Linked DNA regions of Homo sapiens: region 2 is linked to region 1. Evidence: fine-mapped expression QTL. A gene starts in region 1. The other region holds a variant in brackets. All regions are shown on one strand. Distances are from middle to middle. Region 1 holds the start of LINC01270 (long intergenic non-protein coding RNA 1270). Region 2 has its middle 18 kb from the start of LINC01271.

Region 1 (5,371 bases):
GTAAGAAGACGGGGAACTGGAAAAAGAGTTGAAGGAGACGGGTTGATGAGGATGATGGGGAATACACGGACACGGAAGGTCAGACTGGACCCAAAAGAGGGTTGGAAAAATCACCCAAACACTTCAATAATATTAGTAACTTCACTTCTGAAATTGTGTGGCAACAAGCAGCGCGTTTATTTTACCACTTACTTCGGGTTCTTGGCAACCCTGCGTACACCAGGGAACGCTTGCCCAACAAGAAACATTCTCACTCGCAGATTGTTTACAAACGCCTCGAAAATTTTTGTAATATTTTTGTAAATATTAAATTAGAAATTTAATATAGAATTATAAAGTGTGAGTGGGTTAATTAAAGATTTTAAAATTTCAACTTAGCAGGTTTTTCTTTTTCTTTTTTTTGAGACAGGGTCGCGCCTAGCAGGCTGGAGTGCAGTGGTACAATCTCAGCTCACTGCAACCTCCACATCCCGGGTTCAAGTGATTCTCCCACATCGGCCTCCTGAGTAGCTGGGACTACAGGCATGCACCACCACACCTGGCTAAGTTTTGTATTTTTTGATAGAGACAGGGTTTCACCATGTTGGCCAGGCTGGTCTCCAACTCCTGACTGCAAGTGATCCACCTGCCTCGGCCTCCCAAAGTGCTGGGATTACAGTAGTGAGCCACCACACCTGGCCAGCAGATTTCTTTAAGTATTTTAGAGGCAATATTTTTTCCCCAAAATCTCCCTTGTGCAAATTTTCTACCTCACAGCTGCCAAAATTTGAGGTGGTGGACAAAAATAGTTGATATATAATGATAGAAAGACGTAAGTGAGGTATATATATAGAGAGAGTCTAGAAAGAGTTCGCTTTCAAAGGGGAGGATCAGGGCAGTCTCCCTGGAGGAGGAGGTTTTGAATACGTGCGTTGAAGGGTGGGTGAAATCCAGACCAGGCAGGTGGGTTAGGGAAAGTGAGGGCATGCCGGGTGAAGGGCCCTGTGTGTGCACAAGGGTGAGGTGGGAATGATGAGTGTGAGAGTTTGTACCAAGGGGGCTGGGGCTGGGGTGCCAAGAACCAAAGAGCCATGATAAGGCCTGTCTGGGGCTCAGCCAAACTGGGGAGTAGTACACGAGAAGAGGAATGGGGAGCCCTAGAGGGTTTTAAGTAGGGGAGGAACGTGGAGTCCATAGCAAGGCAGAGTGGCTGGTGGGGAGGTGGGGAGGATGCCATGGCAACCATTCACGCCAAGCCTCAGCCCCGACCCTCAAGGAGGCAGGCAAGGCTGAGCTTCCCTTTCCAGATTGTTTGTGGGTGCAAAAGGGCAGCAAAGAATGTGGGTGCCTTGTCCTTCTGCCCATGGTCTAGTGTCCTTCCCCTCACCCCAGTCCCAGTGGAGCCATCATAGGTGAAATATAAGAACAAGTCACCTGCGTTCAGTGGCTGCAGAATACCTGGCCTCGCACAGAAGGCTGCGGGGATTTCTGCTCATTCATTCTTCCCACCTGCCGCATGAGGGAGGTGCTATGTCCATTTTACAGAGGACACTGAGTCCCAGAGAGGCTAAGCGGCATGCCCGAGGTTACACAGCCAAGAAGGGGCACAGCAAGATTCAACCCAAAAGTCTGCACTCCAGCCACTGCCCTATCATGACACTCACGAGCTCCCACCAAGTCTGGCTCCAGTGTTTCCAGTACCATAATCATCCCCATTTACCAGATGGGTAAACTGAGGCTCTGAGAGGTGGAGTCACTTGCCTGAGGCCATACAGCAGGAAGGGTAAAAGTAAAGATTTGAATCCCTGGGTCTAGTCGACTCTGGAGCCTGCTGTTCTCCCACCATACACCTCAGCTGCTCGCCCTCCTGGGCATCTGTTTCCTCATCTGATGAACAGGGGTGACGGCGATGCCTCCCTGGCAAGGTCCGCAGAGGATCCCGGGTGGTGTATGTCAATCACCCAGCTCAGTGCCTGGCACTCAGTGGATGCTTTAAACGTGATGCCTGTGTTTATTCGTATAAAGGTGGCTGAATATTAAATGGGTGGATTTATGGAAGGCACTTATGGTAATGCCCTGTACATAATAGATGCTCAAGAAACACTAGAAGCAGTTACTATGATTATAGGATCGACCACAGGGGACAGCCCAGTAACCCCTCAAAGTTGCTTCCTTCCCAAGTTGCCTTCCATTTATTTCTCCCTTCATCCAACACACTGGCCTTAGGGTCCAGGTTAGGATTTGGGGGCTTGGGGGGCTTAGGTTACAATTTGAGGTGATTTGTCCCCCCCTGCCCATCAGTCAGAGTGATGCTGAGAGCACTGGATGATAAGACCAGAATTCTAGGTCCGCGCCCCGGACCTGCTGTGTGATCTCTGGCAACTGCCTTGCCCTCTCTGGGCCTTGGTTTCTCCTTTCATCTGCAGAGCCTGGGCCAGGCTGCCCTGGGAGGTGCCAGCCCCGAATGGGGCCGGGGGCAGTTCCTGTGTCCCCTTGGCCACCAGCCTCCATCTCCTGCCTCTTGAGCTGCAGGCCCGCCCGGCTCAGCTGTGACGACGAACCAGCCAATCTGTTTACTGAACTGGCTGACCCCTTCCGGGAACTCGGCCCAAGCTTCCCAGAACTCGGGTATTAATGACCCGGAGCCACATGACGGAGCATGACACAGCACTTTTGGGCACAAGGCAGGGCCCAGAGGGGTGCGTGGGGGCCGCAGCCCAGCCCCCAAGCCCCGCCAGCGGGTGAGTCACCTGGGCCCCCTGCAGCTTCCTGATCCCGGCCACTCAGCTGTCCTCCCCACCCCCAGGATATCCCCAGTTGTCAGGGCTGCCCTGGGACCCCTCGACCTTTGCACTAGGGACTTAGCAGCCGTCTTGGGTGATCAGGGCTGCCTTCTGGGATTACAGATGGGGACAGTGAGGCCTGCAGGACTGGAGTGAATGAACAGTGAGCTCTGAGTAAACGTCCACTGTGCGGGAGGCACTGTGCAAATACGTCACGTTAGTCTCGCAGCGATGCAACACAGTGGCGTAGTTTAATCCCCATATGATAGATGGGGAAACTGAGGCTCAGAGCGGGAATGAATTCTCCCAAGGGCATGCAACAAGAGCACTCTGTTTGACTGGAAATAATTTCCTTTCGTCTCCTCAGCAGCCGACAAGGGAGGTGCCATGTGGACTGTTTCACAGCTGGAGAAACTGAGGCACAGAGGGGCTGAGTCACCTGCCTAACGCACTGAGCAGTCTGGCTCCAGGACCTGTGCTCTGAACCAGCACCTGGCACATAGCTGGCACCGACATGGTCTCCGTGCACTGCCATGGATGAGAGCAATGCTGGCTGCGGTGTCGGGCGGAGCTGGGTTCCAATGCTGACTTCACCTTTCTCAGGCTGCACAGCCTGGAGCACGTGGCTGCACCCTACCGTGCGTCAGTTTCCTCACCTGTGAAGGGTGATCGTGGTGGTCCTGATCTTGCAGAACTGCAGTGAGGGCTGTGAGTGTGGGGTGTCTCAACTGCACCTGGACACGCAGAAGGCACTCTGTGAACACTGACTTTCATTGGCCCAGGCCTCTGAATCCATGACAGTTCAATCTCTGAACCCCACAGCTTCCTCCTTCACCCTTTGCCGCCCCAGGGCAAGGTGAGGGCGGTGGTTTTTATGGGCCTGGGAACCAGACAGGCTCGGGCTCAGAGGGGGCGCCTGCTGCTGGCGGGAGTGGGGCCTCCTGGTTCCCACTCCCTGATTTTGGGCTGGGGGCCGGTGGTGGGCAGGGGTGGGGCAGCACTTTGATGTTCTTCCCTTCATTCCACCACCACTGCTTGAGCACCTACTGTATGCCAGGCTCCAGGGGACCCAGCAGTGAACAAGGTCTCTGCCCTCACTATGGTGGAGGAGAGGATGGAGGAGATAAACATCGGTGAGCAAATGCTTGAAGAGGCGAGAGGATTTCACCAGAGAGAAGGGCCGTGATGGGAATCAGCAGGGGTGTTTGGGAGCTGAGTGGGTCAGAGAGGGCTTTTCTGAGGCGGTGATGTGGAGCAGATGCCTGAAGGAGAAGAAGGACCAGACCTGGGGAAGAGATTTCCAGCAGAGGGAAACTCACCACAGCACGTGCAAAGGCCCTGAGGGTGGGAATGGGTTTGGGAAGTTCCAGGAAAGGCAAGGAGGCTGAAGGGGTGTGAGGAGGGGACAGCAGCAGGACATGGTGCTGGAGGGCCAGCAGGGGTTGGACCATGCAGGGCTTGGTGGGCTGAGTGAGCAGCCGCGGCTGGGACTTGGGCAGGAGCCTATGTGAGAGATGGCAAGACTGCCTGAGATCGCATTCAGAACTTCTACCCATCTCACAGATGAGCTCAGTGAGGCCCGAGCCAGCTTCCCCTAGAAGGTCAGTGGCTGGACAGGCATGAGAATCGAGGGAGTTCAACTCCCCCGGAGAAGCCAGAAGCCAGAACACAGGCCGTGGAGGAGAGGGTCCCACATTCATCCCTGCAGCCCCGAGAGCTGTGGGCTGTGGGGCTGCCTGGATGGCTTCCTGGCGGAGGAGGTGACCTCCAAGCTGTGGCTGGGGCAGAAGGGCTGGGAGAGCGTTCCCAGTAGGGGAAGCAGCACACAGACAGGCCCAGAGGTGGCGGTGAGGTGCAGGCGTTGTCTGGGAAATTCATCACTGCTTGGGAGTCAGGAAAGTGACCGGGTGAGGAAGTGTTATTGTCAGGGTCTCCCTTTCAGAAGGCCTTGGGGCCAAGGGGAGGAGCTGGAATTGCCTTCCACCGCGTGCAGACCCCAGGCTGGATCCCAGGACTGCCCAGGGACAGGCACACGTCTGCCCTCATGTGGCCCACAGTCCAGGGGCAGGGACTGTCTGGAGAGATTAGGGCCATGGGGGGCAGGAGGGCGGAGGGGCAGACCTCCCATCCTAGTTCCAATCTCAGTGCTGTGACACACTCCCTGTGTGACTTGGGGCAAGTCACTTTACCTCTCTGAGCCTCTGTGTCCTCATCCATAAATACCACCTGGAAAGATATTCTCAGAACTCAGTGAGATCATTCGCTCATTCGTCCACTCATTTATTCCTTGGATTTTTTTTAGCGCTTCCTATATGCCAGGTCCTGGGCTGGGTGCTGGGGACACAGCAGTGACAAAAATCCCTGCCCTTGTAGGGCTGATGGAAGAGGTAGTGTAAAGCAGTGAGTGGTTAAGAACACAGACATTGGAGCCAGGGGCCTTGGGTTAACTCCTGGCCCACTGCTTATTTGCTGTGTGGTTTTGGGTGAGACACTTTACCTCTTTGCATCCTACCTGTAAGATGCCACGTCATAGGATTGCTGAAAGGACAAATGAGTTAATATATGTAATGTGTTTAGCACACAGCCTGGTACATAGTAGGTGCTCAATT
Region 2 (5,371 bases), 47 kb after region 1:
CAAACAAATATTTCACTGAAAAGAACATGCAGATGGAAATAAACACATGAAAAAATGTTCAACATCATTAGCCATTAGGGAAATGCAAATTAAGGCCACAATCGGATATTGCTACACACCTATCAGAATGACCAAAATAAAAAACGATGGGAACTTTCGCATTCAATCACTGGTGAGGAATGGAGACACTAGAACACTCATACATTCCTGATGGGAATGTAAAACGGTACCGTATTCTGGAAAACAGTTTTTTAAAAACTGCCTTATGACTTGGCAGTTGCAATCCTGGACATAAAAATGAAAACTTATGTTTGTGCAAAAACTTATGCTCAAATCTTCATAGCAGCTCTCTTCATAATAGGCAAAAACTGGTAAACCACCCGGAAGCCTGTCTATGGTTTTTTTTAACTAAAAAAAGCTGTGTTATATCCATACTATGGACTGCTACTTGCAATACAAAGGAATAAAATATTGATAACACACAATTTGAATAAATCTTCAGAGAATTATGCTGAGTGAAAAAAACCAGTCCTCAAAGGTTACATAAACTATATGATTCCATTTATGTAACATTCTTGAAACCACACAATTATAGAAATGGAGAACAGATTAGTGGTTGCCATGGCTCGGGGGCAGGGTTGGGGGTGGGAGATGGGTTTGGTTATACAAGGGCAATGAGGGATCCTCGTGGTGATAGAAATGTCTGTATCTTGACTATATCACTGTCAATATCTTTATTGTGACTGTTAACATTGGGGGAAACTGGAAAGGGTATATGGACTCTCTCTGTTTATTTCTTACAACTGCATGTAAATCTATAATAATCTCAAAAGAATACATTTTAAAAAGAATATATTATACAATTTTCTATACCCAGACACTACTAAATATAATTATATCTTTGGTAACACAGACACACTGTTCTCAGATAACGGAAGTAGTGCGGTGATTATGTGTGTGACTTGACAATGGGATGGGCTGGGTTCAAATCTCAGCTACCAGTCCCTTCACCTCCTTGGGCCTCAGTTTCCACACCTGCAGGTGCTGAGCAATGAGAGGAACTGTCTCGTGGGGTTGCTGGGGGGACACGATGACGTGATTCATGAGACATGCAGAGCACAATGCTCACTTGCAGTGGCTGCCCAGTAAATGAAATTGCCACTTTTCCGGGCTGTAGAAAAGGCTACAGGTAGAGGCAGGCAGAGGATTGGACCCGAGAGCATCCTCTGAGAGCTCTAGATTGGGATCATGTCTCACCAGCCAGGGGGTTTGTTTTGACTTCTTTCTTGCAGGGAAGTGTCTGCTGAGTGGTCCATTCCACTCCCCTGAGTTTGGCCTGGTCGCTTCTTGTCTGCCCTCTGGACCCCGGTGGGTGCAAACTTTCATGGGTGTCTCTCCACCTGGAGCCTGTGGTTGGGACTGCTCAGGTGGGGACACAGCCTGGGGGGTGATCCTCTGTAAGGCAAAATGGAGCAGGAGTGGAACCCATGCCTACTGCATACCTATTGTGTGCCTTGTGACTTACGTGCTGCAGCTCACGGAATTCTCCCAACAACTTTGAGCAGTAGGTGCTATAATCACTCCTGCGTGATCCAGAGAAAACCGAGACTTGGTGAGGGGAATGGACTTGTCCAAGGTTGTGCAACTAGTAGGTGGCAGAGCTGAGATCTGAGCCCTGGTCTGTCTGATTTAAATCCAGAATCATTTTCACTGTTGATAATAACCTCACCACTTATTAAGTATCTACTAGAGTAATCAATATGCTAGCTCTTTCCATTGAGGTATGATCACCTTTCCATTTTAGAGAAGAGGAAATAGGGGTTAGGCAAGGTGCATTGCCAAGATGGACAACAGCTCTCAAAAAACAGCCAACCTTGCAGCCAACGGGCAGCTTTCTTGTGTGCCCCCAACCCCACCTGTAGCTCCAGCCCAGCTCAGCCAAGATCACTCAAGCTTTGGGACTTTTAAATGCTGAGTCAGCAAACAGCCCCTACCTTGAGATACTCTGCCTAGGCAGACTGTGGTTGTTTGCACTTCAGCTTCAGGCCTCCAGGGTCAGCTGAGATAGCAAGACCTTCCCCTGGGGGCTGGATGGGGTCATTGGGAGCCACTGAGAGACCCTTTCCCCACTTGGCCTGGCAGACAGAGTGGCAGTTGGAAGAGGCTCGAGGTGGCTGTGGTGGTAACAACTTCCTTTTGAGTAATAACATTTACTGAAAAGCAATTCTGCTTTTAGCACCAGAAGTTCACCATCCTTGCAAGCAGGCGCCTAAGAATACCTTCATTCAACCACAGTTCAGAGATTCACAGACTTCCTTTTGCACTCCCTCCAGGAGAGTTTCACATTTGGTGTTGAGGGAAAACCAAATACCACAATTATTGGAGGGGGTGGGAGGGGTGTTGAGAGGGAGGTGATGCGAAGG[A/G]GGCCAGGTGGCATCAACCACAGCCCCCAAGGCCTCACAGGCAGCCTCTGGGCAGCGGCTCAGCCTCTCGCCCTCAGTTACTGGAAAGACAGCGGACGAGCTCATAATGAAACCGACAGGCTGACAATTTATCTTCCTTTTACAAGAAAAAGAAAGTGATTGTCCTTCAAACAAGCATGACTTTGGAAGCCAGGGACTTACCCTGGCCACTCTGCAAATTAGAGACAGAGCCAGGCTGCTCCAGAGGCCCCGAGCCCCTGCCTGTCACCCCCAATTAGCGCTGGAGTTCTTTAGGCTCGTTTTTTCTATTGCCCAAAATCCAGTCTACTGGGGCATAATGGGGACTTATGGAAAGAAAAAAATCCAATCTGCACTTGGGAGGGGATAGCCTTAAATGTTAGGCACTCACCGCAGGCAGCTGGGGGTGGCTGAGGGCAAGGGAGAAGGCATGGGTGGGGAAGGAGGGGATGTGCCAGGCAGAGCCAGGAGGCTCCAAAAAGCAGCTCTAAAAAGCTCTCCCCCTCCCAGCAATCCAGCCTCCTGACTCACGCCAGACACAGAGGCAGCTGATGGGATGGGAAGAGGCTGGCTTTGGGAGCCACAGGGATGTGGGGGCAAACTCCAGCTCTGCCACTTGCTGGCTGTGTGACCTTGGGTGGGTAACTTCACCTCTCTGAGACTCAGTTTCCTCACCTTTAAGATGAGGATGAGTATAGGAGGTCAGGACATGACCTTCCTGTGCTCAAAACCCTCCCACGGCTCCCACCTCACTTGGCAGAAAGTCAAAGATCTCTGTGGCCTACCAGGCCCTACAAGATCTTTCCCATGCTTCCCTTATAACCTCATCTCTCTCTCTCTGTCTCTTTTTTTTTTTTTTTTTTTAAGACAGGGTCTCACTTTGTCACCCAGGCTGGAGTGCAGTGGTGCCAACACATCTCACTACAGCCTCAACCTCCTGGGCTCAAGTCATCCTCTCACCTCAGCCTCCCAGATAGGTAGGACTACAGACACATGCCTCCACGGCCAGCTAATTTTTGTATTTTTTGTAGTAGAGATGGGGTTTTGCCATGTTGCCCAGGCTGGTCTCGAACTCCTGAGCTCAAGTGATCTGCCCACCTTGGCCTTCCAAAGTGCTTGGGATTACAGGTGTGAGTCACCGCGCCTGGCCCATCTCCTCTTACTCACTCTCTCTGGTTCCCTCTACCCCTGCCACACTGGGCTCCTCTTTGTTCCTCCAACATGCTAAGCACACGCCTACCTCGGGGCTTTTGCACACACTGTTTCCGCTGCCTTCAGCATCCTTCCTCCAGATAGCCACAGGGCTTCTTCCCTCTCCTGATCTGGGTGTCTGCTTAAATGACCCCGGGGGTCCTGCTCTGACCCCCGGCCCTTCCAAATTGCTCCCCTGGCCTTACCTCTTCACCCTGCGTGAATGTTTTCCCATAACACTGACCACTACTTGACACAATAATTTAGGGGGTTCATAACTCCCCATTGGCCAGACTGTAAGCTCCCAGCAGGCAGAGGCCAGTTCTCCACTGTCCTCCATTAAATCTCAGAGCCTGGCACATAGGGGGCACTCATCCAGCATTGAATGAACAGATGCAGGGTTTTGTGGTGAGAAGGGAAGAAGGACGTGTGTGGCGGGTTCAGCACCAGCCCAGGGTGCGTGCTCACTGTCACTTCTTCTCTCCTCTGCCCAGCACCAGCCCCATGTCATGTGCTTGTTGAATTCCTACAATGGAAGGATGCATTTTACAGATGCAGGAATGAGACCACAGAGCCCAAGCGACTGTCTCAGCCCGCAGCGGGGCAAGGCTTTGAATTCTGGTCTGCGGGTCTCTTGGCCTCCAGGACAATGGTGACAGTGTCCAGTCTGACTTGGGGTCTGGGTGAGAGAAATGGCTGGTGGGGCCATCAGACTCTTGAGAAGAGGCCCTGGCTTTGAGGATCTCCAGCCGACATCTGGGCTTAGGACTGGGGTTCACGCCCCGTCCTCCTGTCCCACAGTCCCACATTCTGCCCCAAAGCAGAATGCAAGCCCCATCAAGGAGGCTCAGGGTTTCCAGAGAGGGGCTTCCTCAACTTTCTGTTGCTGGAAAGTTCTGTCCCAGAAAGGGCAGACGCTTGAGGAGCTCCTGGATCCGGCAGAAGGCTCTGAGACTAGGAGACCCCTGGTGTCCTCGCTCCCCGGCACCCCGCCAGTTCTCGAATACAAGGGACTTTCCAGAGAAGTCAGCCTCCTGGCTGCCTCCAAGCCTGCCCAGGCCTGCAGGCCCAGGTCTCCATGAAGCTCAGTCCTGCCTCGGTTTCCCTGTTTTTAATTTCTTGGAGAGGCCAAGGAGTTTGGAGGTGAACAGCCTCATACGAGCACTAATTTCCCCTAGGCCTGGGGCATAGGAATTTTGGAGCCATAAACAGGCTTCTCACAGCCCCCATGATGAGTCCTCCCCACACTCCATCCACCCTGGACTCTGGGCTGAGCTGGGCAAGGAGCTGGTCTGGGGTGGGCTGGGTGTTGCCTGTGGGTGCGGCTCAGAGCTGGGGGCGCTACCTCTGCCCTTCTGTCCCCCATCAGAGCTGCCCCAGCTGTATGAGAACCCCTCCCACAATGGCTACAACAGAGGGCACGCAAGTGAGACGCCAGGAAGAACTGCTTCAGCTTCGTTATCCTCAAAGGTGTTCGTACCCATCAAGCCTCCTAGAGCAGACCTCCATGACAGCTGCCCATGGGACAGGTCCACTCTGGAGATATGTTTAGTTTGGTCCTTAAAGTATTTTTTTTTAATGTGAATCAATTGCCAACATCTGACATGCCAGGAGATTTCACATAAAGTCCTTTTCTCTGGCTTCTCTTGAAAAATGGGAAGATGTGGCCATACTGGGCCCACATTCCTACTGGACACAGGAGGCCTGGGAGTGGGGTTGCGGGAGGCCCTTTCTTAGTG

What was found. PIP is the estimated chance that this variant, and not a neighbour inherited with it, causes the effect.
Region 2: its variant is fine-mapped to the expression of LINC01270 in whole blood (TOPMed, PIP 0.96).

What each region holds. Positions count from the first base shown.
Region 1 is chr20:50,290,111-50,295,481 of GRCh38, forward strand. It overlaps LINC01270 (long intergenic non-protein coding RNA 1270), which reads left to right and starts at 2,610. Exons shown (of 5, transcript NR_034124.1): 1 at 2,610-2,720. RefSeq lists enhancers at 2,163-2,899, 4,013-4,513.
Region 2 is chr20:50,336,635-50,342,005 of GRCh38, forward strand. No RefSeq gene overlaps it. Among named protein-coding and RNA genes, the nearest start is that of LINC01271, 18 kb to the left of the region's middle. RefSeq lists an enhancer at 2,480-2,679. The variant A/G (reference allele first, on the strand shown) is at 2,424.